7 linked regions of the Homo sapiens genome follow. The protein of the gene in region 1 purifies or fractionates together with the protein of each later gene. This does not show direct contact. Each region holds a gene or a part of one and is shown in the gene's direction. Other genes may lie near its edges. The genes, in order: GSX1, LETM1, DCUN1D5, APOO, SAR1B, LYPLA1 and NDUFAF2.

Evidence for each region.
Region 2: the proteins of GSX1 (region 1) and LETM1 purify together in Homo sapiens (affinity purification with mass spectrometry; one large-scale study listed by BioGRID and IntAct). This does not show direct contact.
Region 3: the proteins of GSX1 (region 1) and DCUN1D5 purify together in Homo sapiens (affinity purification with mass spectrometry; one large-scale study listed by BioGRID and IntAct). This does not show direct contact.
Region 4: the proteins of GSX1 (region 1) and APOO purify together in Homo sapiens (affinity purification with mass spectrometry; one large-scale study listed by BioGRID and IntAct). This does not show direct contact.
Region 5: the proteins of GSX1 (region 1) and SAR1B purify together in Homo sapiens (affinity purification with mass spectrometry; one large-scale study listed by BioGRID and IntAct). This does not show direct contact.
Region 6: the proteins of GSX1 (region 1) and LYPLA1 purify together in Homo sapiens (affinity purification with mass spectrometry; one large-scale study listed by BioGRID and IntAct). This does not show direct contact.
Region 7: the proteins of GSX1 (region 1) and NDUFAF2 purify together in Homo sapiens (affinity purification with mass spectrometry; one large-scale study listed by BioGRID and IntAct). This does not show direct contact.

The regions. Positions count from the first base shown.
Region 1 is NC_000013.11:27,790,869-27,795,524, forward strand, and holds GSX1 (GS homeobox 1), read left to right. Parts: upstream 1-1,614; 5' UTR 1,615-1,822; coding exon 1,823-2,234; intron 2,235-2,697; coding exon 2,698-3,080; 3' UTR 3,081-3,900; downstream 3,901-4,656. UniProt on the Homo sapiens protein: Probable transcription factor that binds to the DNA sequence 5'-GC[TA][AC]ATTA[GA]-3'. Activates the transcription of the GHRH gene. Plays an important role in pituitary development.
Region 2 is NC_000004.12:1,814,657-1,818,643, reverse strand, and holds part of LETM1 (mitochondrial proton/calcium exchanger protein precursor), read left to right. Parts: intron 1-1,729; coding exon 1,730-1,917; intron 1,918-2,841; coding exon 2,842-2,980; intron 2,981-3,987. UniProt on the Homo sapiens protein: Plays an important role in maintenance of mitochondrial morphology and in mediating either calcium or potassium/proton antiport. Mediates proton-dependent calcium efflux from mitochondrion.
Region 3 is NC_000011.10:103,081,969-103,085,955, reverse strand, and holds part of DCUN1D5 (DCN1-like protein 5), read left to right. Parts: intron 1-2,629; coding exon 2,630-2,700; intron 2,701-3,116; coding exon 3,117-3,208; intron 3,209-3,987. UniProt on the Homo sapiens protein: Contributes to the neddylation of all cullins by transferring NEDD8 from N-terminally acetylated NEDD8-conjugating E2s enzyme to different cullin C-terminal domain-RBX complexes which is necessary for the activation of cullin-RING E3 ubiquitin ligases (CRLs).
Region 4 is NC_000023.11:23,900,952-23,904,938, reverse strand, and holds part of APOO (MICOS complex subunit MIC26 precursor), read left to right. Parts: intron 1-596; exon of another isoform or gene 597-1,143; coding exon of another isoform or gene 1,144-1,164; intron 1,165-3,987. UniProt on the Homo sapiens protein: Component of the MICOS complex, a large protein complex of the mitochondrial inner membrane that plays crucial roles in the maintenance of crista junctions, inner membrane architecture, and formation of contact sites to the outer membrane.
Region 5 is NC_000005.10:134,619,031-134,623,017, reverse strand, and holds part of SAR1B (small COPII coat GTPase SAR1B), read left to right. Parts: intron 1-1,965; coding exon 1,966-2,085; intron 2,086-3,987. UniProt on the Homo sapiens protein: Small GTPase that cycles between an active GTP-bound and an inactive GDP-bound state and mainly functions in vesicle-mediated endoplasmic reticulum (ER) to Golgi transport.
Region 6 is NC_000008.11:54,095,226-54,099,212, reverse strand, and holds part of LYPLA1 (acyl-protein thioesterase 1), read left to right. Parts: intron 1-3,987. UniProt on the Homo sapiens protein: Acts as an acyl-protein thioesterase. Hydrolyzes fatty acids from S-acylated cysteine residues in proteins such as trimeric G alpha proteins or HRAS.
Region 7 is NC_000005.10:60,948,158-60,952,144, forward strand, and holds part of NDUFAF2 (NADH dehydrogenase [ubiquinone] 1 alpha subcomplex assembly factor 2), read left to right. Parts: intron 1-3,987. UniProt on the Homo sapiens protein: Acts as a molecular chaperone for mitochondrial complex I assembly. Complex I functions in the transfer of electrons from NADH to the respiratory chain. The immediate electron acceptor for the enzyme is believed to be ubiquinone.

The DNA.
Region 1 (4,656 bases):
GCCTTGCCCCCCACTCCATGCCAAGCAACCAAGAAAACATTGAACCCTTACTCCTGCTAGATGCCATGCCCTCCATGCAGGTTACTTCTCCCATTGTCCTATTCCCTTTTACAGAAGCAGTTATTATCTCGCAAAACAAATTATCTTTGCTTTTTAATCAGTTATAATCTGTTGCTGTTGTTATTGCAAAGATGTTGCCAAGGATAAAAGCCCATGCAGATGCTTCGGGTTTGGGCAATCTTATTCCTGCGCACTGCTTCCCCAGACCCCTAAGCTTCCCCCTCCATTTCTCACAATTCCATTCAGGGCTCAGAGCAGGTGACTGCAGCGATTTGGTTCCAATAAAATCGAAAGTAAACGTCTCCTGTGAAAAGTCCCGGGCTGTAAATTAGAAATGTTTATGCTGATTTCCCATTGTATGGAAAAAGCTCCTGGGCGAAACAGCTTTGAGCCCGAGAACGATTTAAAAAGCTGGAGCTGTGTACACAGCTCTGAGCGTTTGAAGTTGTTTAACCATTGTGTGACCAGAAAGAAGAGTGACGCGGCAGGAAGAAGAAGCCGGGTCTTGGGGAGAGCGGAGGCGGGTCAGGGTGGGCAAAGGCAGCCGATGCCAGGAATACAACCGCCCTTCGCGCCGTTCCAAACTAAGAGATGGCAGCGGTTTCCCAGCGCACTGCTGGAAGTGTGCTCCAGTAGACAGGGTGTGGGCAAGATGCGCGGGCAGACAGTCCGCACTCGCCACATGTGCTGGGGTGCGAGATCTAGATCTGCGCCATCTCGGCTTTCATTCCCCATTCCCTGTCTCTGTTCGTAACGCTCAGAGACTGTTTTTCCTCTTTTACATCCACGGCCCTGTCATTTGAAGGAAAGGGCTGGTTGGCCAGCATCTACCGAACAAAGACTGGGCGTCGTAGGCAGCACCAAAATTAAGACTATTTGAGAAACTTAGAGAAAACCGAGGGACAGCGATGGGTCTAGGGCTGGATAAGGAATAATGAGCCCTTCTCCTCCCTCCCCACAGACGCCTCCTTCACGCGGGAACCCGGTCCTCCTTCTTCCGACGCAGAGAGAGAAGCGATTCCACAGGTGGAAAATCTGAGACCGGCTGGAGGGAGGTTCGGGGGTGCACGGCACTGAGCTGACAGGGCTGACTGGAGACAGCATACTTTTGGGGTGTAAGGGCGATAATAGAAAGAAGGGGACCAGGACCAAGTGGACAGAGGATATGAGGGTGTGCGCCCATGGGGATCTGTAGAAGAGAGGCCGCGGGGGTGCAAAATCAGTAAGGTGAACGGGCTGATGGCCAATGCAAAGCCAAAGGGGAGTAAGAAATAAAGAGAAAGGAAAGAATATTAAATCGCGGGAGAATGAGAAAATAAACCCGCAAAAGGGAGAGGAGGGGGCGAGGGCGCCTGTTACGGCGTGGGTGGGGTTGACAAGAATAGAGTACATTATGCAGTTCATTTAGTTAACAAGTGAAATAATGAGGAAGCGTGCAGAGTGAATGCCAAGAGAAAAGGCACAAAAACCCTATTGAGAGGCCCCGGCCGCTCCTGGCGTAGTCCATCACATGGCAATAGTCCTATTTAAGCCGCGCCGCCGGCGCCTTTCAGCACCACTAGCGCTGGCCAGCACCCCGCGCTCTTTGGGCGGTGCCCACGGCAGCAGAGGCTACTGTTTCAGCCTAGGTCTCAGCCGCGCGTTCAGCCTCCTGGGCAGAGGCAGCTGCGGGATACCGCGGCCAGGGAAAGCGCGTGGAGAGCCGAAAGGTGCGGTGGGCGCAGAGGGCGGGCTGGCTGCGGGGCGACCGCGCGCCGGGGCCATGCCGCGCTCCTTCCTGGTGGACTCGCTAGTGCTGCGCGAGGCGGGCGAGAAGAAGGCGCCCGAGGGCAGCCCGCCGCCGCTCTTCCCCTACGCTGTGCCCCCGCCGCACGCGCTGCACGGTCTCTCGCCTGGCGCCTGCCACGCGCGCAAGGCTGGGCTGCTGTGCGTGTGCCCGCTCTGCGTCACCGCCTCGCAGCTGCATGGGCCCCCCGGGCCGCCCGCGCTGCCTCTACTCAAGGCTTCCTTCCCACCCTTCGGCTCGCAGTACTGCCACGCGCCCCTGGGCCGCCAGCACTCTGCTGTGTCGCCCGGGGTCGCTCACGGCCCGGCCGCCGCTGCTGCTGCCGCCGCGCTCTACCAGACCTCCTACCCGCTGCCTGACCCCAGGCAGTTCCACTGCATCTCTGTGGGTAAGCGGGGCCGCCGCGCAGAGGGACCGGGCAGAGGTGATCCGAAGCAGGATGGAGAGCCAGAGATGGAGGAAGAGGGACCCTGGGCTTTCTGGGGGCGGTGAGGGTCATGTCGGGGACTAAGGGGGGCGCTTGGGGTGGAGTGAGGATAGAGGGCCGGGACACAACGCCAGGAGGCGGATGAGGGCAGACGTCCAGGTCCTGGAGTGTGGGCCGGGGTAAGTGAGGGCTGGGATCCAAGGCTCTCCATGAAGGGGAAGGGGTTCCAGGGCTGCATGACTCCGGGAGAATCAGGATCTCGGAGCTGGACAAGGAGCGCTCACTGTAGCTCTGCTGTGGATTGTGTTGGGGCGAAGAGATGGGTAAGAGGTCAAAGTCGTAGGATTCTGGCGACCGCCTACCAAGGGATTGGGTCCACAGCACAGAGGTCTGATCGCTTCCTTCTCTGCTCTGCCACCTCCAGACAGCAGCTCTAACCAGCTGCCCAGCAGCAAGAGGATGCGCACGGCTTTCACCAGCACGCAGCTGCTAGAGCTGGAGCGCGAGTTCGCTTCTAATATGTACCTGTCCCGCCTACGTCGCATCGAGATCGCGACCTACCTGAATCTGTCCGAGAAGCAGGTGAAGATCTGGTTTCAGAACCGCCGAGTGAAGCACAAGAAGGAGGGCAAGGGCAGCAACCATCGTGGCGGCGGCGGCGGGGGTGCCGGTGGTGGCGGGAGCGCACCGCAAGGCTGCAAGTGCGCATCGCTCTCCTCAGCCAAGTGCTCCGAGGATGACGACGAATTGCCCATGTCTCCGTCCTCCTCAGGGAAGGACGACCGGGATCTTACGGTCACTCCCTAGGCGCGTGTCTCCCTAGGTCGCCCACCCCAAGACCTCCCTGCGCCTCGGAGACTAGTCCTGGGACTCAGCGCTGATTCCCAGGCACCCGCAGCCAAACCACTGCCTGGCATGGATTTGGCACTGCTTTGCAGAGGTCCCGGGCCTGGGCAGGGCTGAGAGCTTGGCAGAGACTGGACCATGGCGTCCCCGCCCCAGGGCTCGCTCGTGTCCAAAGCCAACTCCAAGCTGTGAACACTGTAAGCGCTCGAGTCCTCCTGGGCAGTGCAGCACCGCGGCCCCCGCCCGCAAGCCTGCTTGGCGCAGCGCCTTGCTGGCAGCCGGCGCCTCCTAGCCCGCCCTCTCTGGGCTGGCTTGGGCTTCCTCGCTTACTCTACTCTCCTCCGCTCTCGGTCAAGGTCGGCGGCCTTGGATGCTCGTTCGCTTCTCTTTTTAAAATGTCTTTTTGTCCCTCCCCACCTCTTTCCTGTGATCATTTATTCACTCGGCCCCCGCCCGCCAACACACACATTTATGAACCCCCACTTTTTTTTTCCTTCTCCTTTTCCCTTCCCCTCCTCAGGGAGCCTCCTCCTTCAGTCAGTCCATTTGTCCCTTGATCTGGCCTTGCTGTCCTCAGTCCCCACGGCTCCTCTCACAGATGATAAATTTCGCCCGTAGTATCCATATTGGGGAAACAGATTTGCTCTGTTTCCAACACGCTCTTCCTTCCTCTAAACATAGGACCCCGCTCTGCGCCGCTGGCGACCCCACTCTTCCCCCTCCAGACTCTGGCCCGCCCCAGCCTAGCTGTGTAATTGTACGGCCTCTGCAATGCCAGAAGATATTTATTTATTTATTTATGTACAAAATTTTAAATAAACTTTTTTTTTTCTTAGAAATGCCCGTGGCTCTGAGCCCAGAGGCCTTCGCTCTGGAGTAGACAGGCGCCAACCCGGATTGGGCCTCCCTTCTGGGAAGGGTTGGGGATCCAGTTGCAGGGTCCGAGCCGGCTCCTCGCCTTACAGCTCAGCCAGTGCCTCTCGGAACCCTCAGCTCCGCTGAGAGCCCGCCTTGCATGCCAGCCAGGTGCGCGCTAACGATTGTCCCGCTCCGGCGTGGCGCACAAGCGTCGCGGAGCTCAGAGAGCTAAGCCGGAAGGGAAGGAGAGCGCTCTCCTTGGACTGCACCATGGGTCCCAACCCCTGCAGCGCCTCCTTCTCACCTGGGATCCAGCCCCACCTCCATCCCTCACCATTTCGCTGTCCTGGCCAACAGCCGGGAGGGCAGAAACCACTCCCTCCATAAGCACAAGAAATCCGTCCTTCACTGCGCTTGGATTGATAACGATTCGTTAGGGACAAATTTCCATTCTGCGGGATGGTGCAGACTTCTCTCAGAGGGCCCTCCTCTCTTTGTTTTAAGGCAAATTCCCTTAGCCGAGTCCCTGGTCGCGGAACATTCCGGGCAAGGAATCCGAGAATCCGAAGTGATCCTGCCCCAGGGAGTCCCCGAGAGGGACTCTGCATAGCTGGAGCCAGTGGCTCTGGGACCTCATGTTCTCACCAATTCTCGTTAAAATCCTATATCCCCCTACGAC
Region 2 (3,987 bases), on another chromosome or scaffold:
TTTCTTTCTTTCTTTCTTTTTTTCTTTTTTTGAGACGAAGTCTAGCTCTGTCGCCCAGGCTGGAGTGCAGTGGCGTGATCTCGACTCACTGCAACTTCCGCCTCCTGGGTTCAAATGATTCTTCTGCCTCAGCCTCCTGAGTAGCTGGGACTACAGGCATGTGCCACCATGCCTGGCTAATTTTTTGTATTTTTAGTAGAGACAGGGTTTCACCATGTTGACCAGGCTGGTCTCGAACTCCTGACCTCATGATCCACCCGCCTCAGCCTCCCAAAGTGCTGGGATTACAAACATGAGCCACTGTGCCCGGCCCCTAATACGATTTTTTAAAAACTGTTTTCATAGCTCTGTTGGGAATGATAACTGATTTTTCAATTGGCAAAAATAATTGGCCATTTCTAGATTTATGACAGCCCTCATGCCATGTGGGTTCTCCACTGGATGTGAGGTGCTTATCACCAGCTCAGCCTGTTCCTTCCCTCCCCTCCCCTCGCCTTCCCCATTCTTCCTCATGGTGTTTACTCGTGGGAAAAAAACAACTTGGAATTTAAAAAGACACTTAAGGCTGGGCACTGGTGGCTCAGGCCTGTAATCCCAGCACTTTGGGAGGTCAAGGCAGGAGGATCACTTGAGCTCAGGAGTTTGAGACCGGCCTGGGCAACATGGTGAAACACCATTTCTGCAAAAAATACAAAAATTAGCCAGGCATGATGTTGTGTGCCTGTACTCCCAGCTACTCCAGAGACTGAGGCAGGAGGATTGCTTGGGAGTGGGAGGCTGGGAGTTGGAGGCTGCAGTGAGCTGAGATCATGCCACTTTACTCCAGTCTGGGTGACAGAGCAAGACCCTATCTCAAAAAACAAAGACACTTAATTTCCTTGATTAATTAGTTCACTTAATTTTTCTTTAACAAATGTGAAGGAAATTGAGATTCAGAATAGATTCTATGTCTTTTGCTTGCAAGGCAGTGTACAAAAATAAGAAATTTGTATGATAGAAATACAATTTTATAACTCTCTGGTTTGAATTAATGGGTTTAATTACCTTTACAAGTTAATTTATTACCTTTTTTTGTTGTTGTTTGAGATAGGGTCTCGCTCTGTCACTCAGGCTGAAGTGCAGTGATGTGATCTTGGCTCACTGCAGCCTCCACCTCCTGGGCTCAAGCCATCCTCCTGTCTCAGACTCCTGGGTAGCTGGCACTACAGGTGTGCACCACCACGCCTGGCTAATTTTTTGTTTGAATTTTGGTAGAGATAAAGTCTTGCTATGTTGCCTGGTCTGGTTTCGAACTCCTGTCCTCAAGTGATCCTCCTGCCTTGGCCTCCCAAAGTTCTGGGATTACAGGCATGAGTCACTGTGCCCAACCAGATTCTTTTTTTTTTTTTTTTTTTTTTTGGAGACAGAGTCTCGCTCTGTTGCCCAGGCTGGAGTGCGTTGGCATGGTCTTGGCTCACTGCAGCCTCTGCCTCCTGGGTTCAAGCGATTCTCCTGCCTCAGCCTCCCAAGTAACTGGATTACAGGTGCCTGCCATCATGCCCAGCTAATTTTTGTATTTTTAGTAGAGGCGGGGTTTCACCACATTGGCCAGGCTGGTCTCGAACTCCTAACCTCAGGTGATCCGCCCGCCTTGGCCTTGCAAAGTACTGGGATTACAGGCGTGAGCCACTACACCTGACCCCCTTTTTCTTTTAAGACAAACTTTTTACAACCAAAATAATTTTATTAGGACTTGCAGGAGATCAAGAAGGAACTTTCAAAGACTGGTGAAGAAAAGTACGTGGAAGAATCTAAAGCCAGCAAGAGATTGACAAAAAGGGTGCAGCAAATGATCGGGCAGATCGATGGCTTGATCTCGCAGCTGGAGATGGACCAGCAGGCTGGCAAGCTGGCCCCGGCCAACGGCATGCCCACGGGGTGAGTGGGGTGGTGGGCGCGGGAGAGGGATCGGAGACTCACATAGGGAGGCTGGTCCCTTTGCTGGATCCGAGCTGGGCCCTTCTGGCTCCAAAGGGCACATTGTAGCCTCTGCCTGGCTGCCTCTCCACCTTTGACCAGCAGTCCCAGCCAGGAACCCTCTGGCATGTCAGTCTCTGCCTCTCCGAGAGCAGTTCGTCCCTTCCTGGCCCCTCTTCCTCTTCCCACAGCCCCCTCTCCTCCCGCTCCAACCTCCACCTCTGTTGGCTTCTGTTTCCTCTAATTACCAGGCTCTCTCTTGCCTCTCCCTCTTCCTGACCCCACCCACGCTCAGTAATGACACCAGCTCGGGCAGTCGGCCTTCTCTGTGCCCGACATGTCCCAGATTCCTGCGCAGCAGTGGCTGAGGGAGCTGCCGTTTTGTGAGTCCCTTCTGGGCGAATGAAACAGCTGTTGGGTGACTGCTGGTGCCCTGCAGGTTCCAAATCTCCACCTCCACACCCACAGTGTTGTAGGTGGGCTGCACGTGGCACCCTGCTCATGCTCTCGTCCCTGCTCTTGGAGGCCCTCATCTGCCCAGGGCACCACAGCCCCCATGATCGTGAACGTATTGCCAAGTGGCCACAGGCCTGAGGACAACAGCCCAGCAGCCATGGCCCCAGAGGGGCAGCCACTGAGGGGCAGACATGCCCGTGGAAACCCTGGACCTGGTGGTGTTTCTGTGTTTGTGTCCACGCTGGCCCTGGGAGCTCTTGGCATTGTATGCAGGATGGGATCATACCTTGGGGGTCCGTGCTGGAGGTTGCCTGGCTCACGCGGAGCCGCCTGTGTCAGTGCTGACCACTTGCAGCCACAGGTGTGGGCAGTGAGGCCCTGTGTGGCAGGACGCCTGCCCGTGGCCACATGCAGGCTGTGCTTCCACAGGGAGAACGTCATCAGTGTCGCTGAGCTCATCAACGCCATGAAGCAAGTCAAGCACATTCCCGAAAGCAAGCTCACCAGCCTGGCCGCAGCACTGGATGAAAACAAGGATGGCAAGGTCAACATCGACGACCTCGTCAAGGTGGGCCTCGCTGGGGACCACGCAGGCCATCCGCCACCTGCTCTGGAGTGGGGTGGGGCAGGGGGACTGTTCATTGCATGTCCGGCACCCTCCTGGGCAGCTACCCCCTCCTGTCAGGGGTTTGGGTCTGTCACTGCGACTGCTCCTTTAAGCCGCTGCTCTCATTTGAAACATCAGAAGTGAGAAATTATTGAAGTTACAACTCAAGTGTTGAGAGAGAAAACGCACCTAGTGGCTACGCATGTCCCTGGACCCCGCCCCCAGCTGGTGGCACTGGGGAGCCGGGGGGGTGCAGCAAACACCTCTCAGGGGCCCCCGACGCTGAGGGGCGACTGCACAGGGAGCCTGGGGGCACTTCACACCTGCCGGGGGCCCCCAAAGCTGAGAGGCAACTACACAGGGGAGCCGCGGGGCAGCTTGGGCACCGCCCCAAGGCTGAGAGGTGACTGCTGGGCTGAGCTCCCAAGTGCAGCCACTCAGGTTCCAGGGTAGCCCCGGAGACCCTGGCCCAGGATCCAGTCTCTGGAGGGAAGGCAGGGCTCTAGCCTGAGTGCGCACACCAATTTTCCCAATCACTGACATCTCTGAGGGGAAGCTGCCTCGTGGCTCCCGGTGCATGCATCAGGTTAGTGATTTTCCAGACGTCTAACAGAAGTGTTGGCTGGTTTCTTGCAGTTCAGTTTGGAAGCAAGGATCATGTATCTACTGCACAGCTGCCCTTCCCTTCCCTGCTAGTCTGGGTGGCAGAGTGGGGACAAGGTCCCTGCATGTCACCCCACTCTGCCCTGGGAAGCCATGGCCCAGGTTCCTGGCCAGAGCAGGAACTTGACCCTGGCAGCCCCATTGTGCTGTCTGCCACCTGTCAAGGCAGCCCCCTGGCTCCTTTGTCCTCCCACTCTGAGCCCCTTCCCCAGGGTCTGTGGCACCCCTTGGGGGAATTGGTGCTCTGAGGACCCTGGGGCCCGCAGGCAGTGATTGCGTGCATGCTGCTGCCACCCCAGCTGGGG
Region 3 (3,987 bases), on another chromosome or scaffold:
ACTGGCCTATGGTAATTGAAAACATGGAAAGTGAAAGGGCAGTTTTAAAGTCTCATAGAGTCAAAAAATAAGGTTGGAATTGCATAGTCCTAATATAGTACCTAGCTGGTGGAGTAGAGTGAACTCATAGTATGAACAAAATCATTTCTATAGCTTCTTCAATTGAGTGGAAACCTAGTTGTCCAAAAGAGTTAATTAAATTTAGCTCCAGAGGTTTTACCCAGAGAGTAGTTTTATTAGAAAGATTGGAAGCAATGGTATTGGAAGGATTAACATTTTGCAGTCCGGGGAAAGCACATTAGTTACAGACCTCGCTTTAGACTTAGATCTGTTACTATTTACATCACTTTGGCAAAGTCAGTTAACATTTACAGACCTTATCTAAGTTATAAGGTATTATATCTCTATGTAATCTCATTTGACTTGCTTCTAACCAAATTTTAATTAGTAATCACCAAGTAATCCTCCAGTTTCTAGGGGGGCTATACTGATATTTCTTTTTTATTTTTTATATTTTTTGAGACAGAGTCTCGCTCTGTCACCTACGCTGGAGTGCAGTGGCGCAATCTCGGCTCACTGCAACCTCTGCCACCTAGGTTAAGTGATTCTCCTGCCTCAGCCTCCTGCGTAGCTGGGATTACAGGCACCTGCCACCACGTCTGGCTAATTTTTGTAGTTTTAGTAGAGACAGGGTTTCACCATCTTGGCCAGGCTGGTCTTGAAATCCTGACCTCGTAATCCATCTGCCTCGGCCTCCCAAAGTGCTGAGATTACAGGCGTGAGCCACTGCTCCTAGCTTATGCTGATGTTTCTAGACATCCTCTAAAGCTTTCTCTTTGAATCACTAATGGCAACTTTGAGAGCAAGTATGTTTTCTTGATGCTTTAGAAAAATTTACAATATATTTACATCGTGGCTTTTAAAAAAACCGTTTGTCTTTTCCCTTAATTTTTTATTTTTTATTTTTTTTTGAGACAGGGCCTTGCTCTCTCCCAGGCTGGAGTACAATGGCGTGATCATGGCTCATTGCAGCCTCAAACTCCTGGGCTCAAGCAATGCTCCCACCTCAGTCTCCTGAGTAGCTGGGACCACAGACTGGCACCACCACACAAGGCTATTTTTTTTTTCCCTAGAGATGGGGTCTCCCTGTGTTGTGCAGGTTTGTCTGGAACTCTTGGGCTCAAGTGATAATCCCACCTCGGCCTCCCAAAGTGCCAAGATTACAGGCATGAGCCACCGCGCCTGGGCCTCTTAAATTTTCAAATCTGATTTTTGTTTTCTTTCAATCATATATAAGAATACATACTCATTTATGCATTTTAACACCTTTATTGTATATGTATGCCTTTTAAGTTATAAAATTAACACATTCTCATTTAAACAATTCTCCAAATATGTAAAGGAAGAGAAAGTGCCCTATAATTAATCACCCCCTTCACCTTTTAACACGAGTGCATTGTTAGTACTTATTTAAACCTAATAACACTTAACATGTTACACAAAAAAATTAAAAAGGGTTTTGGCTTCAGACCAGTATTAATGTCATCTTAGCAGCTTGGATCTCAGGCAGCAAGAATGTATTGACTTTATGTTGTGCTAGTAACCTAAATATGGTGCTGTCAAATTTACCTGAGCAGCCTTGGTCTAGTCTATGGTTTATAAAGCTGGAGGATTTTCATCCTTGAAAAAGGAAAATAGAGGCTTCTCTTGACTCTTAAGAATAATATCTCAAGATTATATTTTCAAAATCCCATAGTGGTAAACACATTTCTCATATTATTACAAAATTTGTTTTATTCTTATCCAGTCACAAAAGAGACCTAGTGATGATGTAATTACTATATTTTGGGAATCTGATAACATTTTGAAAAAATGATAATTGATGTATTGATTTATTAATGTTGCTAAGGGTGTAAAATAAGGAACAAGTTAAATGCCAGTAATTAATTTTTGGATGAATGATAGACACTAACTAATTGAAAGATTAAACTTCTGTTTCTACATTAAGGTGACATCAATGCTTGCTGTCTGTTTTAGAACCAAGATGATAAGGAAAATAGCTCTTTCTGGAAATGGAATGTAGTAATTTCCATAAGTCATTATTTTCAAAATACCTTTGTCTTTTTCAATAATTAAATTATATTTGAGTGTATTTCAAAAGGGTAATAAATGGCCTGTTTTATAGGTAAATATATTCCCCTTCTGATTACTGTATTGAACTTTGTGTTGGTTCTGATATTCCAGTAGATTAAGAAGCTCCAGCTGCCTTATGTTTTTTCATATTCATGCATTGTCAAAAATTTTATTCAGAGTAGGCTCTCAGTGAATTTTTTTTTTAATGGATTGGTTTGAGTTTTTGTACTAACTTGTGATTGATACTAATGGAGTATTTCTTTGCTGCTTTTTAAATTTTCTTAATTTCATATTGTAATCTGGTGTTCAAAGAATACTTCACAAATTTTAAATTTTAAATCCTGTAGCAAATATTTATACTTATCAAAGCTATGCCAAAATTCAAATTTAATTATTTGCAAAATATTATGGTGTGTTCATGGGTACCTTTAGCATGACGATTTATGTTTTATGTTGATATTATAACAAAATATGTTAATTATTTTTGTCTTTGAAGGTCCTGATGAAGTTGTAGGGCCAGAAGGAATGGAAAAATTTTGTGAAGACATTGGTGTTGAACCTGAAAATGTATGTTTTATTTCTAAGTAGAATGGCATATAAGTGGGGTATAGCATATTCGTAAATTACTAAAAATCGAGACACTTTAATCTTGTATGAAGATTTTATTTCTTCATGTTTAATATTGTAAATTTGCATTTAAGGTATTTTTAATCAGTTTAAGTTGGGCAAATGTATTCTTTCTTGATACAAATGTTATATGTAATAGAATAAGAGATTCTACCTTCAGAAACTGTTAGAACTTTTTACTTTTAAGAAATTGGCACATCTCAATTTCTTTGTATATAGTTAATAATTCCAGAGGTTGTACTCTTTAATAGTTGAAGGATGGAAGTAGTTGTGTAAAAATGCTCTCCATGATAAATATAGACATGATTATCTCTATGCTGACTTTTCCCCTATCCTTTATGTTCTGTTCTTTCCAGATTATTATGTTAGTTTTAGCGTGGAAATTGGAGGCTGAAAGCATGGGATTTTTTACCAAGGAAGAATGGTTAAAGGGAATGACTTCATTACAGTAAGAAATTTTTTTAAAAAACAAATTTGATGGCCTATTTGAAGATCTTAATTGATATTTTGTGCTTCATAATTTTCAGGAGTAAGGTTTCACCTTAAATCAAATCTGTTTGATCTATAACAATTAGTTTGGGGATTGAAAAAATTATATTGTGGTCTTGGGCAAATATATAGGTACCCCATGTTTTATATTCTCTAAGAAAGAACCTTAGTACAGTCCTATTAAAATTCCTTGATTCTCTTGGTGAGTGACTTAAAAGTCTATGATCAAAGACCTATTTATTTACAGGTTGTTTGAGTATAAGGATTTTCCTCTCTCAATACAGAATTCTACTATCGAAGGAGTATGTTCGTTGGGCAGCCCTAAGCTCTAGGGCCTCCTCTCCCTTCTTCACTTTAATATTTGACTTTAAAAATTTGAAGATAGAGTTACATAACCCTTTTATGATTTCTTTATTGCCAAGTGAATTTCATAAAGGACAAAAGTAGAAATGTTGTAACTGCTCCCGTGCAATCTTTACCCATTTTATAGTCCTACACTTTCAGTTTAGGATCCTGTCTTTGAACATTTTCATAAGTTATAGAATTGCATCTTATAAAAATAATTTGATTTTGGCTTTCCTGAATGAAGTGTGCTTAATTTCAGAATCAATTAGTGATTTTGTGTTAATTGTATAGTATCATGTTTCTAGTGTTTCTGCAGGGTATTAGTTATCAACATTCTAAAATAGAGAAAGCATTAATTTATAATATTTTTGAGGCAAAAACTGGGGCTTAATT
Region 4 (3,987 bases), on another chromosome or scaffold:
TCAAGGAGAAATGGCTATGTTAGGATGCTTTCAGCTGGGAAAACCCAACTGCTTAAATAGTAAGGAAAATTCTCTCACAAAGTCCAGAGGAAGAATGGATTCCAGGCTCTGATTCAGTTGGTCAACAGTGTCAGGCCAGGCACGGTGGCTCACGCCTGTAATCCCAGCACTTCGGGAGGCCGAGGCGGGCGGATCACGAGGTCAGGAGATCGAGACCATCCTGGCTAACATGGTGAAACCCTGTCTCTACTAAAAATACAAAAAATTAGCCGGGTGTGTTGGCGGGTGCCTGTAGTCTCAGCTACTCGGGAGGCTGAGGCAGGAGAATGGCAAGAACCCGGGAGGCGGAGGTTGCAGTGAGCTGAGATCGCACCACTGAACTCCAGCCTGGGAGACAGCGAGACTCCGTCCCAAAAAAAAAAAAAAAAAAAAAACCAGTGTCATCAAGGACCCATCTCTTCTTGGGTTTCCACAGTCAGGTTGGTTTCCTTTAGGGTTGCAAGATGACTACTAGTAACATACACACTTTCTCATTCTCTAGAGCAAGAGGAGGAGGAGAGAGAAAAAACTCCCACACTTGGTCCTTCAGTCTGATTGGACCAACTTAGGTCAGTTGTCTGACCCTGTAACAGTTGTCAGAGGAATGCCATGATCTGATTGGCTTAGACTAAACAGGATCAACCCAGGGTGGCGTCACTTAATCACAGGGGAGAGGAATGCATTCATGAACACAATGGAGTTCTTTTAGGAAGGAAGAGGGAGAATAGAGACTGGATATGCAACCAACAATGTCCATGACGGAGATATAAGCTAGATGAGATATGAGTTAGTTACATATCATGAGTCGTGTTCACTGATTTGGGCACTTTGGAAAGCTTTCATGATCCTTATACTTTAGGTTTACTGATGGAAGTGAAGGGTAGATTAACCTGGGTTGGTGACTGAGGGCCAAGTAAGTGGACACTATGATGGTTGATAAGCTTGACTATCAAGGGAAGGAGAGAGAATTTGGTAACTAGAAGGATATGTTCAGTCAAGATTCTAGAGAGAATACCTCAGCTGTGCAAGGGAGAGATATTCCCACCCGAGAGATGGAAGGAAAAGAAAGGTGCGAGAGATTGTAGACCAGTGGTTCTCCATAGAATGGTACGACTCAACAGAATGGTATGTTTTGGAAACTTGTGGGGTTGTTCTTTTTTTCTTTTTTCGTTTTTAACTTTGCAAAAATTATAACTGAAAATGGGGTTGTTCTTTATGTCTTTAGTTGTGTTGAACATTTACATACTGAAATATAATTCACATAAATCTTTCCTTTTTATTCACCTTTATGCTACCATCAGAGTATACTGATTTACTTTTTGGACTTATGCATGTAACTTAGTGATGAATTTTATTTCAGGATACCAGAAGAGTGTCAGAAAATATTTGTCATAAAATGGTGATGTTAGGTCTAGTAGTTGAGAACCAGTGCTTGTCAAACTTTAATGGGCATGTGACTCTTGTTAAAATGGATTCCAATTCAGTAGGTCTGGGATGCGGCCTCAAATGCTCCATTTTTTTTTTTTTTTCTAGATGGAGTCTCGCTCTATCACGCAGGCTTGAGTACAGTGGCGCAGTTTCTGCTCACTGCAACCTCCGCCTCCCGGGCTCAAGCAATTCCTCTGCCTCAGCCTCCTGAGTAGCTGGGATTGACAGGTGCGCGCCACCATGCCCAGCTAATTTTTTGTATCTTTAGTAGAGACGGGGCTTCACCATGCTGGCCAGGCTGGTCTCAAACTCCTGACCTTGTGATCCACCCGCCTCAGCCTCCCAAAGTGCTGGGATTACAGACGTGAGCCGCCGCACCCGGCCAGATTCTCCATTTTTTAACTAGTTCTATAGTTTTCGTTGGTCCCCTTTGACTAGCAAGAATTGAAGCCAATCGGTAGATGAATGGTTCTTGTGTTTTCGAGATGGATGGTCTTATGAACATGGTGGGATTTGGGAGAGGCACTGACCAAGGAACAAAAAGATAGGCCAGACCCTTTGAGGGCTCTGCTGAGAGCACTCCTGTATGTTTGTGCAGAGTGGGGATGGAGTAAACGGTAGGATTGATCGGGGTTTGGGAGTTAACAGCTTGGGTTAACTAGAACTGGAGGGCAAAGGAGTTAATAGTATAGGTGTTGGTAGTAAAAGTACAATGGTAGTAAAAGTGCAGTGTGTCTGACTAGTTATGTGCATATTAAGTACACATTGTACTTAAAATATATACTGCGATGTTTTGATATAGTTATTCATCTTCAGGTCACTAGGGGGCATTGGTGGATTAAAAAACACATTTGAAAAGCTGCCCAGTATTTGCATTCCATTGTAGGAAGCAGCTTTTCCTTGTGCTGCTGCAGGAAGTTTGAATATTGGATACATATACCCAGATTCACGTTATTAGATTTCCTTCATTACACAGATTTTATCCTAGTCCAACTATGGGCTGGGCATCATGCTGGACCCTGGTGGGTACAAGTGAAAAGACCCAGTTCTTATCTAGGAGAGAGGTCCCAAATCTGGCCACAAATCAGAATTATTCAAGGAGACAGTTTCCAAGCCCCTGCGCATGGTTCTGACTGACTTTTTAGTTGGCGTCCAGGAACTGCTAGTTTTGAAAAAGCCCCCCAAGGTGATTATGAAACTTTCATTTCAGAAGCTCACAATGCACTTACCAGCACAGACATTAAAGGTCCGTTAACGATGCAGTGGGTCTCAACCTTGACTGCATGTTAGAGCCACCTGGGGAGCTTTTAAAAGTCCCGATGCCCAGTCTAGAACCTATACCAATGACATCAAGAATCTCTAGGGGTAGGATTAGGCATCTAGTTTTTGGAGCAAGCAGCCAGCCTTGAGATCTACTGACTTAGAGGGAAGAGCAACAGCAGGGGGCATCAGAAGGCTTTATAGAGAAGAACATGCCTATGCTGATCTTTGGAGCTAGGCAGACAAGGTTGAAAGGGCCTTCCAAACAGAGAAGAAAAGCACATGCAAGGACACAGAAGTGTGAGAGTGTTCAGAACAGTGTTAAGACCTTGGGCTTCACTGTGTTCCTTGTGAGAGATACTAAAGTTTTCTGTAGCTGCTTCCTCATTTGTAAAACAAGGATGAGATGCTTACCAACCTCAAATTATTGTGTGGATTAAATTCATTCCTACGCAAAGCTTAGAACAGTGCTTGGCCCAAAGTAAGGGCTGAAGAAATGTGAGCTGTTACTTTTAGTTGGCATCTTGTAAGATGGCATCTTGTAACTACCTGTGTTACGGTGGTGCACGGTCTTGGGGCTCTCCAAAAGTATTTTTTATTTCAAAACTTGGTAGTCAGTTGGATGTGGTAGATGAGGGAGAAGGATAAATTAAGGTTTCTGCCCAGGCTTTTGACTTTTGACTGTGGGATCTATTCATTGAGGTGGGAACTATTCATTGAGGTGGGAAAGTGGAAGAAGGTTGAATTTGGTTTGAGGGGGAGGTGATGGTTTGGTTTTGAACAGGTTGGGCTTGCTGAAATATCTGGGCATTGGAAGGGGGAAATCAGTTGATGTAGAACCCCAGGGTATGGACTTTTCCTGCCACAGACGTGGGCTGGAAATTGGGAAATCATCAGCTGCTAACTGAAGCCTCCAGGGCAAGAAGGTGGCCTAGTGAAAACTGGTCTGTGTCACTTCCTTCCTCAAGGGCAAATAACATGACCTGTACTCAGAGCTCACCACACCAAGGAGCCTGAGTGAACATGTCCATGACTATGAGGTGTTATTACCTCACACATTCTTTGTGGCTTAGTGTAATACTTACATTGCCTGTCTTCCTGAAATTAATTTTCTTACCATGTTACTAGTATGTTACTAGAACTGCGCGGAGAATTACAATGCTAAATGGAAAAGGAAAATCATCTGTAAATTGGAAGAGTAATGTAACTTTTATACTTGAGCATTATTTTAAAAGCCACATATTTGGAAAGATAATGAAG
Region 5 (3,987 bases), on another chromosome or scaffold:
CCGAGTATCTGGGATTACAGGCATATACTATCATGCCTGGCTAATTTTTTGTATTTTTAGTAGAGATGGGGTTTCACCGTGTTGGCCAATCTGGTCTCGAACTCCTGACCTCAAATGTTCCACCTGCCTTGGACTCCCAAAGTGCTAGGATTACAGGCGTGAGCCACTGTGCCCGGCCTCCTTGCTACAGTTTCTAGGTAATATTGGTCCTTTGTTCTCTATAGTTATCTCCTTTAATTTTATTTATATAATAGTGCTTATTTGTGTTGAGCCTCTTTATATATGAAGCAATAGTTAAGAATAGTTAAGGCCGGGCGCGGTGGCTCACGCCTGTAATCCCAGCACTTTTGGAGGCCGAGGCAGGCAGATCATGAGGTCAGGAGATCAAGACCATCCTGGCTAACACGGTGAAACCCCGTCTCTACTAAAAATACAAAAAATTAGACAGGCATGGTGGCACGCGCCTGTAGTCCCAGCTACTTGGGAGGCTGAGGCAGGAGAATCGCTTGAACCCAGGAGGCGGAGGTTGTAGTGAGCCGAGATCATGCCATTGCACTCCATCCTGGGTGACAGAGCGAGACTCCGTCTCAAAAAAAAAAAAAAAAAAGAATATGGGCTTTGTAATTATACAAATATGTTCAATTACTCGATTGAACAAATATGTTCAATTACTTTTAAATTATGTAATCTTGGGCAAATTACTTTTTCGTGACACTCATAGTAGTGACAGTCATAGAAGTAGATTCCTTAATGATAAAATATATATATAGTTCTGCCCCCAAAACTAAAAGATTAGGACATCAAACAATTTACTTCTTAGACTTAAGCATGGACAAAGGAGTAAGTGTTATTTTAGTATGAATCTATTCAAAAACGGATGGCCTGAAACTATAATTGCCTAATGTCTTTAAAAGTTTGTTTATTTCAGTCAGGTGTGGTGGCTCACATGTAATTTTGTGGAGGTTAGACCATTAAACATGTAAAAAATAAAGTTTGGCTGGGCGTGTGGCTCACGCTGATAATCCCAGCACCTTGGGAGGGCAAGGTGGGCAGATCACTTGAGGCCAGCCTGGCCAACATGGTGAAACCCCATCTCTACCAAAAAATACAAAAATTAGTCAGGCGTGGTGGTGCACACCAGTAGTCTCAGCTACTCAGGAGGCTGAGGTGGGAGGATCACTTGAGCCCAGGAAGTTGAGGCTGCAGCAAGCTGTAATCATGCCACAGCACTCCAGCCTGGGCAACAGAGTAAGACACTGTCTCTAAATAAATCAATTAATTAAGTTCAATATGAAATTTAGCAGTTCAATTCCAGTCTATTATAAATTGGTCAATGCTGCCTTTTTTCTATTTATCAATTTATCTATCAATCAATACCTGATTGATACTTCTAAAATTAATCAGCATTTTGGCATTGTAGATATGTTAAGGCAAAACACATATTCTATTGACTGGGTTGAAGTTTGGTTTTATAATTATCTGAAGTCCCAAATCATGAATAGATTTATTTATTTATTTATTTATTTATTTATTTATTTATTTTTTGAGACAGAGTCTCACTTTGTCGCCCAGGCTGGAGTACAATGGCATGATCTCAGCTCACCACCGCAACTTCTGCTTCCTGGGTTCCAGTGATTCTCCTGCCTCAGCTTCCCAAGTAGCTGGGATTACAGGCATGCGCCACCACACCTGGCTAATTTTTGTATTTTCAGTAGAGACGGGGTTTCACCGTGTTGGCCAGGCTGGTGTCAAACTCCTTACCTCAGGTGATCCGCCCACCTCGGCCTCCCAAAGTGCTGGGACTACAGGTGTGAGCCACCGTGCCCGGCCATGAATAGATTTAAAATAGCTTTTTTAAAACTGAAAATAGGTTTAGAACTTCAAGCTTAATTGGGCCAAATTTAAATTCATTTGGATAATTAGTATCAGATATCACTTTGACCAATCATAGCTCTTGCTTTGCAGGATTATATAAGAAAACTGGTAAACTGGTATTTCTTGGATTGGATAATGCAGGAAAAACAACATTGCTACACATGCTAAAAGATGACAGACTTGGACAACATGTCCCAACATTACATCCCAGTAAGTATATTCCTACATACAATGTGATACTTGATCAAATGATGCTGAGTCATATGCACTAACCAAAAGTGTTTTGTTTCAGACAGGGTCTTTCTCTGTTGCCCAGGCTGCAATGCAGTGGTATGATCACAGTTCACTGCAACCTCTGTCTCCTGGGCTTAAGCCATCCTCCCGTCTCCCAAGTAGCTGGGACCACAGGCATGTGCCACCATGCCCAGTTAATTTTTATATTTTTTCAGAGACCAGGTTTCGATATGTTTCCCAGGGTGGTCTTGAACTCCTGAGCTCAAGTGATCAGCCTCTCTCAGCCTCCGAAAGTATTGGGATTACAGGCGTGAGCCACTGCACCTGGCCAAGTTTTTTGTTTGGGGGGCATTTTCTGGTAGATAAATTATGATCAGGTGATTTGACCTGTTCCTAAAATAATAAATTATAGGTGACCTCGCTCCCAGGGAGAATATTTAGATCTTGAATTAGTACTCATACCTTTTTATCAGCTAGTACTCCCTTCTCTAGCTTGAGGAATTAAAAAGTTTTTGTCTGAGGGATTGTGACATGATTGGTAAATAGTCCACCATCGCCTTGTTTACATAACCTGAATTTTTTCTTTCAGATTTTTTTTTTTTTGAGGTGGAGTCTCACTCTGTCGCCCAGGCTGGAGTGCAGTGGCACGACCTCCGCTCACTGTAAGCTCCACCTCCCGGGTTCACGCCATTCTCCTGCCTCAGCCTCCCGAGTAGCTGGGACTACAGGCACCCACCACCACGCCCGGCTAATTTTTTGTATTTTCGGTAGAGACGGGGTTTCTCCGTGTTAGCCAGGATGGTCTTGATCTCCTGACCTTGTGATCCGCCTTCCTCGGCCTCCCAAAGTGCTGGGATTACAGGTGTGAGCCACCGCGCCCAGGCTTCTTTCAGATTTTAAAGCCATATTACTTTATTTTATTTGTGTAGAGACAGGGTCTTGCTCTGTCATGTAGGTTGGAGTGCCGTGGTATGATCATAGCGCACCATTTAAACTCCCAGGTGCAAGTGATCCTCCTGCCTCTGCCTCCCAAAGTGTTGGGATTAAAGATAGGAGCCATTGCACCATGTACTATTTTAAGCACTAATTCAGTAGATACATTACAATTTTATACATGGCTGGTAACTCAATTTGTTAACCAGTTATTTTTCTAGTCTTAATAACCTCAACAATATCTAATGTACACCACAGAATTAATCTAAAGAAAACAAGGCATATATTGACACACAGGAAGTTTTAAAACAAGGGTGGGTGTGGTGGCTCATGTCTGTAATCCCAGCACTTTGGGAGGCTGAGGCAGGAGAATCACTTGAGCCCAGGAGTTTAAGACCAGCCTGGGCAACATACTGAGACTCCATCTCTACAAAAACAAAAACAAAAAATTAGTCTGGCATGGTGGCATACACCTGTAGTCCTAGGTACTTGGGAGGCTGAGGCAGGAGGATCACTTGACCCTAGGTGTTCAAGGCTTCACTGAGCTATGATTGCACCACTGCACTCCTAACCTGGGCAACAGAGTGAGACCCTGTCTCTAAAGAAACAAAAAATACCAAAAAAATTGAAAGTTTTTTTTTTTTTGAGATGGAGTCTTGCTCTGTTGCCCACGCTGGAGAGCAATGGCACGATCTCGGCTCACTGCAACCTCTGCCTTCTGAGTTCAAGCAATTCTCCTGCCTCAGCCTCCCAAGTAGCTCAGATTACAGGCATGTGCTACCACACCCAGCTAATGTTTTGTATTTTTAGTAGAGACGGGGTTTCAACATGTTGGCCAGGCTGGTCTCAAACTCCCGACCTCAGATGATCCGCCCACCTCAGTCTCCCAAAGTGCTGGGATTACAGGCATGAGCCACCACACTTGGCCAAAAATAATGTTTTTTA
Region 6 (3,987 bases), on another chromosome or scaffold:
AGTCAGGGAGAAGGTTGCTATCCTCTAACTTTGCCAATAATGAGCACTTCTATGCCTGAATGATTAGTTCAAGCAAAAAAAAAAAAACTTCAGTCTAGGCAGATTCCACAGACTGAAGCTAAAAGTAAAAATGGTGAAGACTATTAGGATCAAAAATACCAAGAACATCCATTACATCTTGACCAAAAGTTAAGTTTATATTAAAAAAGTATCCTTCTTTTTAACCTGTTGTGATAAAAGAAAAAACAAAGGTCTCCAGTTCTGAAATTATTTGGTGGGATAATGCTAAGGAAAGGCTGACTCTAGATTGGTTCCATGAGTGCATGATGAAACTTCGAACCTGTCAGCCTGACAAGTGGCAATTTAATACTTAAGATATTGTAGTCTCCCCTTACCTGCAGTTTTGCTTCCCATGGTTTCAGTTACCCGTGGTTAACTGTGGTTTGAAAATACTAAATGAAAAATTCCAGAAATACTTTATAAGTTTAAAATTGTACACCATTCTTTTTTATTTATTTTATTATTATTTTTTGAGATGGAGTCTCACTCTGTCACCCAGGCTGGAGTGCAGTGGCACGATCTCGGCTCCCTTCAACCTCTGCCACTCGGGTTCAAGTGATTCTTGTGCCTCGGCCTCCGGCGTAGCTGAGATTACAGGCGCGTGCTACCACGTCCAGCTAATTTTTTTGTATTTTTAGTAGAGATGGGGTTTTGCCATGTTGGCCAGGGTGGTCTTGAACTCCTGACCTCTAGTGATCCACCCACCTCGGCCTCCCGCAGTGCTGGGATTACAGGCATGAGCCACCATGCCTGGCCTGAATTGTACACCATTCTGAGTATTGTGATGAAATCTCATTCCGTCTCACCCAGGACACGAATCATTCCTTTACCTAGCGTATCCATGCTATATCCATTCACCATCTGTTAGTCACTTGGTAGCCATCTGGGTTATCAGGTCAACTGTTTTGGTATTGTTTTGCTTTTTTTTTTGAGACAGAGTCTTGCTCTGTCACCCAGGCTGGAATGCAGTGACACAATCATGGCTCACTGCAACCTCCACTCTCCAGGTTCAAGCAACTCTCCTGCCTCAGCCTCCTGAGTAGCTGGGACTACAGGCGTGCACCACCACACCCGGCTAATTTTTGTATTTTTAGTAGAGACGGGGTTTCATCATGTTGGCCAGGCCAGTCTGGAACTCTTGACCTCAAGCGATCTGCCCGCCTTGGCCTCCCAAAGTGCTGGGAATACAGGCATGAGCCACCTCGCCCAGCCTGTAGTGCTTTTATCCAAATAAGCCTTACATTGCTTAATGATGGCCCCAAAGTGCAAGAGAAGTGATGTTGTCATATTGTTATAATTGTTTTATTATTGTTAATCTCTTCCTATGTCTAATTTACACAATAAACTTTATCACAAGCATTATGTATAGGAAAAAACATAGTATATATAGGGTTTGGTGTTATCCATGGATTCAGGCATCCACTAGGGGTTTTAGAGCATCCCCCACTGTTTATTTCTGGAATTTTCCATGTAATATTTTCGAACCACAGTTGACTGTGGGCAGCTGAAACCATGGAAAACAAAACTGTGGGTGAGAAGGACTAGGGTATTTTAAACATTATATAATCACAGAAAAGTTATCCCATTAAATTTAACATTTAGTATTATCTAATATATTATGCATTCAACCTTTGCCAGATTGTTCCATTAATATCCTTTATAGCTATCTCCTCCCTAGTCATACATTATATTTAGTTATCACGTCTCTTTAGTCTCTTTTGTCTCTTTTAATCTGGAACAATTCCCTAGATTTTCTTTTGTCTTTCACGACATTGACACTTCTGCAGAGAACAGGCTAGTCCTTTAATTTGGGTTTGTGTATTTACTCATGATTAGATTCAGTTTATGCATTTCTGGTATAAATACCATGTAAACAATATGTCCTATTCATTGCGCGCATCAGTAGACTAATGATGCTGAGTCCTTTTATTGTTGTAACTTCGATCTTTTGATTAAGGTGGTATCTTCCAGGTCTCGACTGCAGTTACTTTCCTTTTGTAATTAAAAAGCAAGTTGCGGGGGGATACTTTGTGACTATGCAAGTTGTTCATCAAGCTTTCACCCAATATTTTTATCATCCATTGATAATTGCTTGAGTCAATCATTTCTACAGTGTGATTTTCCAATTCTGTCATTCCTTTTTTTTTGTCATTCCATTTTGTTTATTAATCTGCTACTCCCCATTTAGTTAGTATGGACTCAGATTTATTTTCTATTTATTTATTTATTTGTTTATTTTTTGAGACAGAATCTCGCTCTGTCACCCAGCCAGGCTGGAGTGCAGTGGTGCAATCTCGGCTCACTGAACCTCCACCTCCCAGGTTCAAGCAGTTCTGCTGCCTCAGCCTCCCAAGTAGCTGGGACTATAGGTGCGTGCCGCCACACCCGGCTAATTTTTTTTTTTTTTTTTGAGACCTTGTCTCGCCCTGTCGTCCAGGCTGGAGTGTAGTGGCGTGATCTTGGCTCACTGCAACCTCTGCCTCCTGAGTTCAAGTGAGTCTCCTGCCTCAGCCTCATGAGTAGCTGGGATTACAGGCACGTGCCACCACGCCTGGCTAATTTTTTTTGTATTTTTAGTAGAGACGGGGGGGTTTCACCATGTTGGTCAGGCTGATCTCAAACTCCTGACCTCGTAATCTGCCCTCCTCAGCCTCCCAAAGTGCTGGGATTACAGGCGTGAGCCATAGTGTCCAGTCAGATTTTTGTAGTTTTAGTAGAGACGGGGTTTTGCCATGTTGGCCAAGCTGGTCTCGAACTCCTGACCTCAAGTGATTTGCCCACTTCGGCCTCCCAGTCCCTCCCTGGAATTACAGGCATGAACCACTGTGTCATGCCTGGACTCAGATTTATTTAATAGGTTATGTTCTATTCTGTTATGTTTTAAACTTTTTAACTTTTCATTTTAAATAACTTGAAATTTACATAAAAGTTGCAGAAATAACATTTATAGCTCCTTATACCTTTCACCCAAATTACCCAATTGTTAATATTTCTGAACTATTAAAGAATAAGTTGCAGGCGTGTTGCCTCATTACAGCTTAATTCTTCAGTGTACATTTTTAAGTACCAGGACACTCCAGTATAACCATCATTAAGAAGTTAACACTGATGGTATACTACGGTCTAATCCACCAGCTCCATTCACATTTCATTGATTTGAGCCAATAATGTCCTTTATCAGTCTAGGATCACATATTGCCTCTACTTATCATTTCTCTTTAGTTTTCTTTATTCTGAAACAGTCCTTGTCTTTCATGACCTTGACACTTTGTCAAGAATACAGGCCGGGTATGGTAATACCAGTGCTTTGGGAAGCTGAGCATGAGAATCGCTTGAGCCCAGCTGTTTGAGACCAGCCTGGGCAACAGCCAGACCCTGTGTCTACCAAAAAAAAAAAAAAAAAGTGTAAGCCAGTTACTTTGTAGAATGTCCCTCAGTTTGGGTTTATCTGATGTTTTGTGATTTATACCTTTTTGACAGTAACACTATAGGGGTATTGCTGTGTCCATAACAGTGCATCATATTAGGCAGACCTCATGATGATTTTGTTGTTACTGATGTGTTTTATCACTTGGTTAAGATGGTGTCTGCCAGGTTTCTCCACATTAAAATAATAAATATAACATATGAAATATTTAAAATATTGAATATGTAATTAAAATATTAAAAAATATTTTGTGGGGAGATACCTTGATATTATAACATATTCCTGATCCCCACCATATGTTCACCCATGGATTTAGCACCCATTAATGATTATTGCCAGAATCTATTGTTGTGGTAGTTGCCGAATATCTTATGATATTTAAATATTTAAAGTTAAAATATGGTCTTTTAATTAAATTTCCTTTGTTCTGGCCGGGTGCAGTGGCTCATGCCTGTAATTCCAGCACTTTGGGAGGCTGAGGCAGGAGGATCATCTGAGGT
Region 7 (3,987 bases), on another chromosome or scaffold:
GCACTCATCTGATTTCTGACACTATACATTAGTTTGTATTTTTTATAATTTTTATTTAGTTATTTTTATTTGTTTATTTTGAGATGGAGTCTCGCCCTGTCGCCCAGGCTGGAGTGCAGTGGCGCTATCTCGGCTTACTGCAACCTCTGCCTCCCAGGTTCAAGTGATTCTCCTGCGTCAGCCTCCCAAGTAACTGAGATGTGTGCCACCCTGCCCAGTTAACTTTTTGTATCTTTAGTAGAGACGGGGTTTCACCATGTTGGTTAGGCTGGTCTTGAACTCCTGGCTTTGTGATCTGCCTGCCTCGGCCTCCCAAAGTGCTGGGATTACAGATGTGAGACAGTGCGCCTGGCTAGAATTTTATTTAAGTGGAAGCATACAGCACATATTCTGCTTTTTTTTTTTTTTGTTTTTTAGGTTCTTCACTCAGCATAATTATTTTGAGATTCATCCATGTTTTTGTGTTTATCAGTAGTTTATTTCTTTTTAATGCTGAGTAATATTCCATTGTATGTATATACCATAATTTGTTTATCCATTCACCTGTTCATAGATATTTGGGTTGTTTCTAGTTAGGGGTTATTACAAATAAATTATGAACATTCATGTGTAAGTCTTTGTATGGACTTATGTTTTTATTTCTCTTGATGTAATATTTAGAAATGGAATGGCTGAGTCAACTTGTTAGGTGTATGTTTAACTTCTTAAGAAACTGCCTAAGTGGTGGTACCGTTTTACCTTCCCACCAGGAGTGTATGAGATTTCCAGTTGTCCTATATCCTTATCAACACTTGGTATGGTCAGTCTTTTTAATTTTAGCTCTTCTAGTAGGTGTGTTGTGGTATCTCATTTTTTTTCTTTAGTTTTCTGTTTGCTATTAGTTGGTTTTTTTAGATTCTATTTTTAAAATACAGTAAAATTAACTTTTAAAATTGGTGTATAGTTCTATAAATTTGAACACATGTGATTCATGTAACCAACACCAAAATCAGGATACAGAACAGTTCCGTCACCCTGAATAACTCCCTCATGCTACCTTTTTGTAGTTACAATCTCTCCTCATCCCTAACCTCAGCAACCACTGATTTGTTCTCTGCCATTATACTTTTTTCCATTTGAGACTGTCCCACATGTATACTTATACCATATGTAACCTTTTGAACCTGGCTTCTTCTATTCAGCATAATGCCTTTGAGATTCATTACGTATATCAGTAGTTTGCTCCTTTTTACTGCTGATTAGTATTCCATGTTAATGGATGTACCAGTTTGTTCATTTACTCATTAAAGGGCATTTGAGTTTAGTTACTTGCAGTTTTTGGTGATTATGAATACAGCTGCAAGAAACATTCACATATGGGTTTCGTGTGAACATAAGTTTTCATTTTCCATGAGTACATACCTAAGAGTGTGAGTGCTTGGCCATAGCAGCTCCAGCTTACTCTGTAAAACGGAAATAACAGTACCTACTTAGCCTCACAAAGTATTTTTGCTACTCAAGAGAGACAAATTGGATAACGTAGCATTTAAGAGAATGGGATTTAATGTCGAAATCAGTTTGACTTAATTCACAGAGACCTTTTACTTGGTCATTTTTAAAAATTTATCACTGATTTGTAGTTTTCAGCATAGAGATCATGATATGTTTTGTTAAATTTATTATAAAGTATATTATATTGTATTGTTATTATAAATGATGCTTTAAAAAACGTAATTTCTAATTCTTTGTTACTATTATATTGAAGTACAATAGATTTTTCCATGTTGAGCATGTATCTTGCAACCTGTTTTACTCACCTACTAGTTCTTGAATGAAGCCTTTTGCAGATCCTTTGGACATTCTCTGTAGGTAATTATATCAACTGTGGATAGAGACAGTTTTGTTTTTATCCTTTCTAACTTATTTGCATTCTATTTCCTTCTCTTGCCTGGCTGCACTAGATGAGCCTCCAGTATAATGTTGAATAAGAGTGGTGAGCATAGGTATCTTTTTCTTGTTCCATATCTTAGAAGAAAAACATTTAATCTTTCATTTTTTTTTTCCCCAAAGGTGGAATTTCGCTCTCGTTGCCCAGGCTGGAGTGCAATAGCGTGATCTTGGCTCATTGCAACCTCCACCTCCTGGTTTCAAGCGATTTTTCTGCCTCAGCCTCCTGAGTATCTGGGATTACAGGCATGTGCCACTATGCCTGGCTAATTTTTTATTTTTAGGAGAGATGGGGTTCGCCATGTTGGACAGGCTGGTCTCGAACTCCTGACCTCAGATGATCTGCCCACCTTGGCCTCCTAAAGTGCTGGGATTACAGGCATGAGCCACCACGCCTGGCCACTACTCTTTCATTGTTAAGTGTGGTGTTAGCTATAATTTTTTAGATACCTTTTATTAAATTAACAAAGTTCCCTGTCTGTACCTCGTTTGCTGAGCGCTTTCTCTTATGAATCGATGTTGAATTTTGTCAATTTTGTCACATGCTTGCTTGCTGGGTTTTTTTTTTTTTTTTGGTTCTGTTGGAATGATCATGTGGTGAATTTATACTGATTGACTTTTAAAAATTAATAGACTTTATTTTTTAGAGCAATTTTAGGTTTACAGAAAAATTGAATGGAAACTACTCAGATATTCCTGCTCCCCCAATGCAGTTTCTCCCATTGTTAATATCTTGCATTAATGTGTCCTCACTTCCTCCCTTCCTGCTACCAAACCCCTAGCAACCACTGATCTTTTTACTGTCTCTGTAGTTTTGCCTTTTCCAGAATGTCATGTAGTTGCTGTCATATAGTATGTGATCTTTTCAGACTGGCTTCTTTCACTTAGTAATATGCACTTAAGTTTCCTCCATGTTTTTTTGTGGCATAATAGCTCCTTTCTTTTTATTTATTTATTTATTTTTGAGACAGAGTCTCACTCTGTCGCCCAGGCTGGAGTGCAGTAGTGCGATATTGGCTCGGTGCAACCTCTGCCTCTCAGGTTCAAGTGATTCTCCTGCCTCAGCCTCTCGAGTAGCTGGGATTACAGGTGCCCACCACCATGCCCAGCTAATTTTTGTAATTTTAGTAAGAGACAGGGTTTCGCCATATTGGCCAGGATGGTTTTGAACTCCTTACCTCAGATGATCTGCCTGCCTCAGCGTCCCAAAGTGCTGGGATTACAGGAGTAAACCAGATGCCTGGCCATCTACTTTCTTTTTATTGCTAAATAATATTCTGTTGTATGGTTAGAACCACTGTTTATTCGTTTGCATATTGAAGGACATCTTGGTTGCTTCCAAGTTTTGGCGATTATGAATAAAGCTGCTATAAATATTCCTGTGCAGTTTTTTGAGTGGACATAAGCTTTTAACTCATTTGGCATTGATTGATTGTTGAATGTCTTGAATATTGCATTTGTCAGGTAAACTCCACTTGGTCATGATGCATTATCCTTTTTATATATTATTGGATTGATGTGCTTTCATTTTATTGAAGAATTTTGTTTTCTGTTCTTCAGGATCTTAATTTCTTCCTTTTAATGTGTTTTCTAGGTTTGTTTTTAGGTTAATGCTGGCCTTATAAAGTGAGTTAAATTTTGTTTCCTTCTTTTGAATTTTCTGGAAGCGTTTGTGAAGAATTTGTATTACTTATTTCTTACATGTTGGATATAAATTGCCTGTGAAGCCATCTGGTCCTGGAGTTTTCCTTGTTGGAAGGCTGGAATTAAAAATTCAAAGATAATAAATTTTTAACCTACAAATTTAATATCTTTGGCAGGTATAAGACTACTCAGGCTATCTATTTTGTCTTAGGTGAGTTTTGGTAGTTTTTATCTTTTGAGTAGTTTGCCCTTTTTATCTAGTATGTTGAATTTACAGTCATAAAGTTGTAATACCTCTTCATTATCTTTTTAATGTTTGTACAATTTGTAGTGATATCCTCTCTTTCCTGAATTGATAATTTGTGGCTATTGTTTTCTTGGCCTATCTGATGAGTGGTTTGTTAATTTTATTGATCA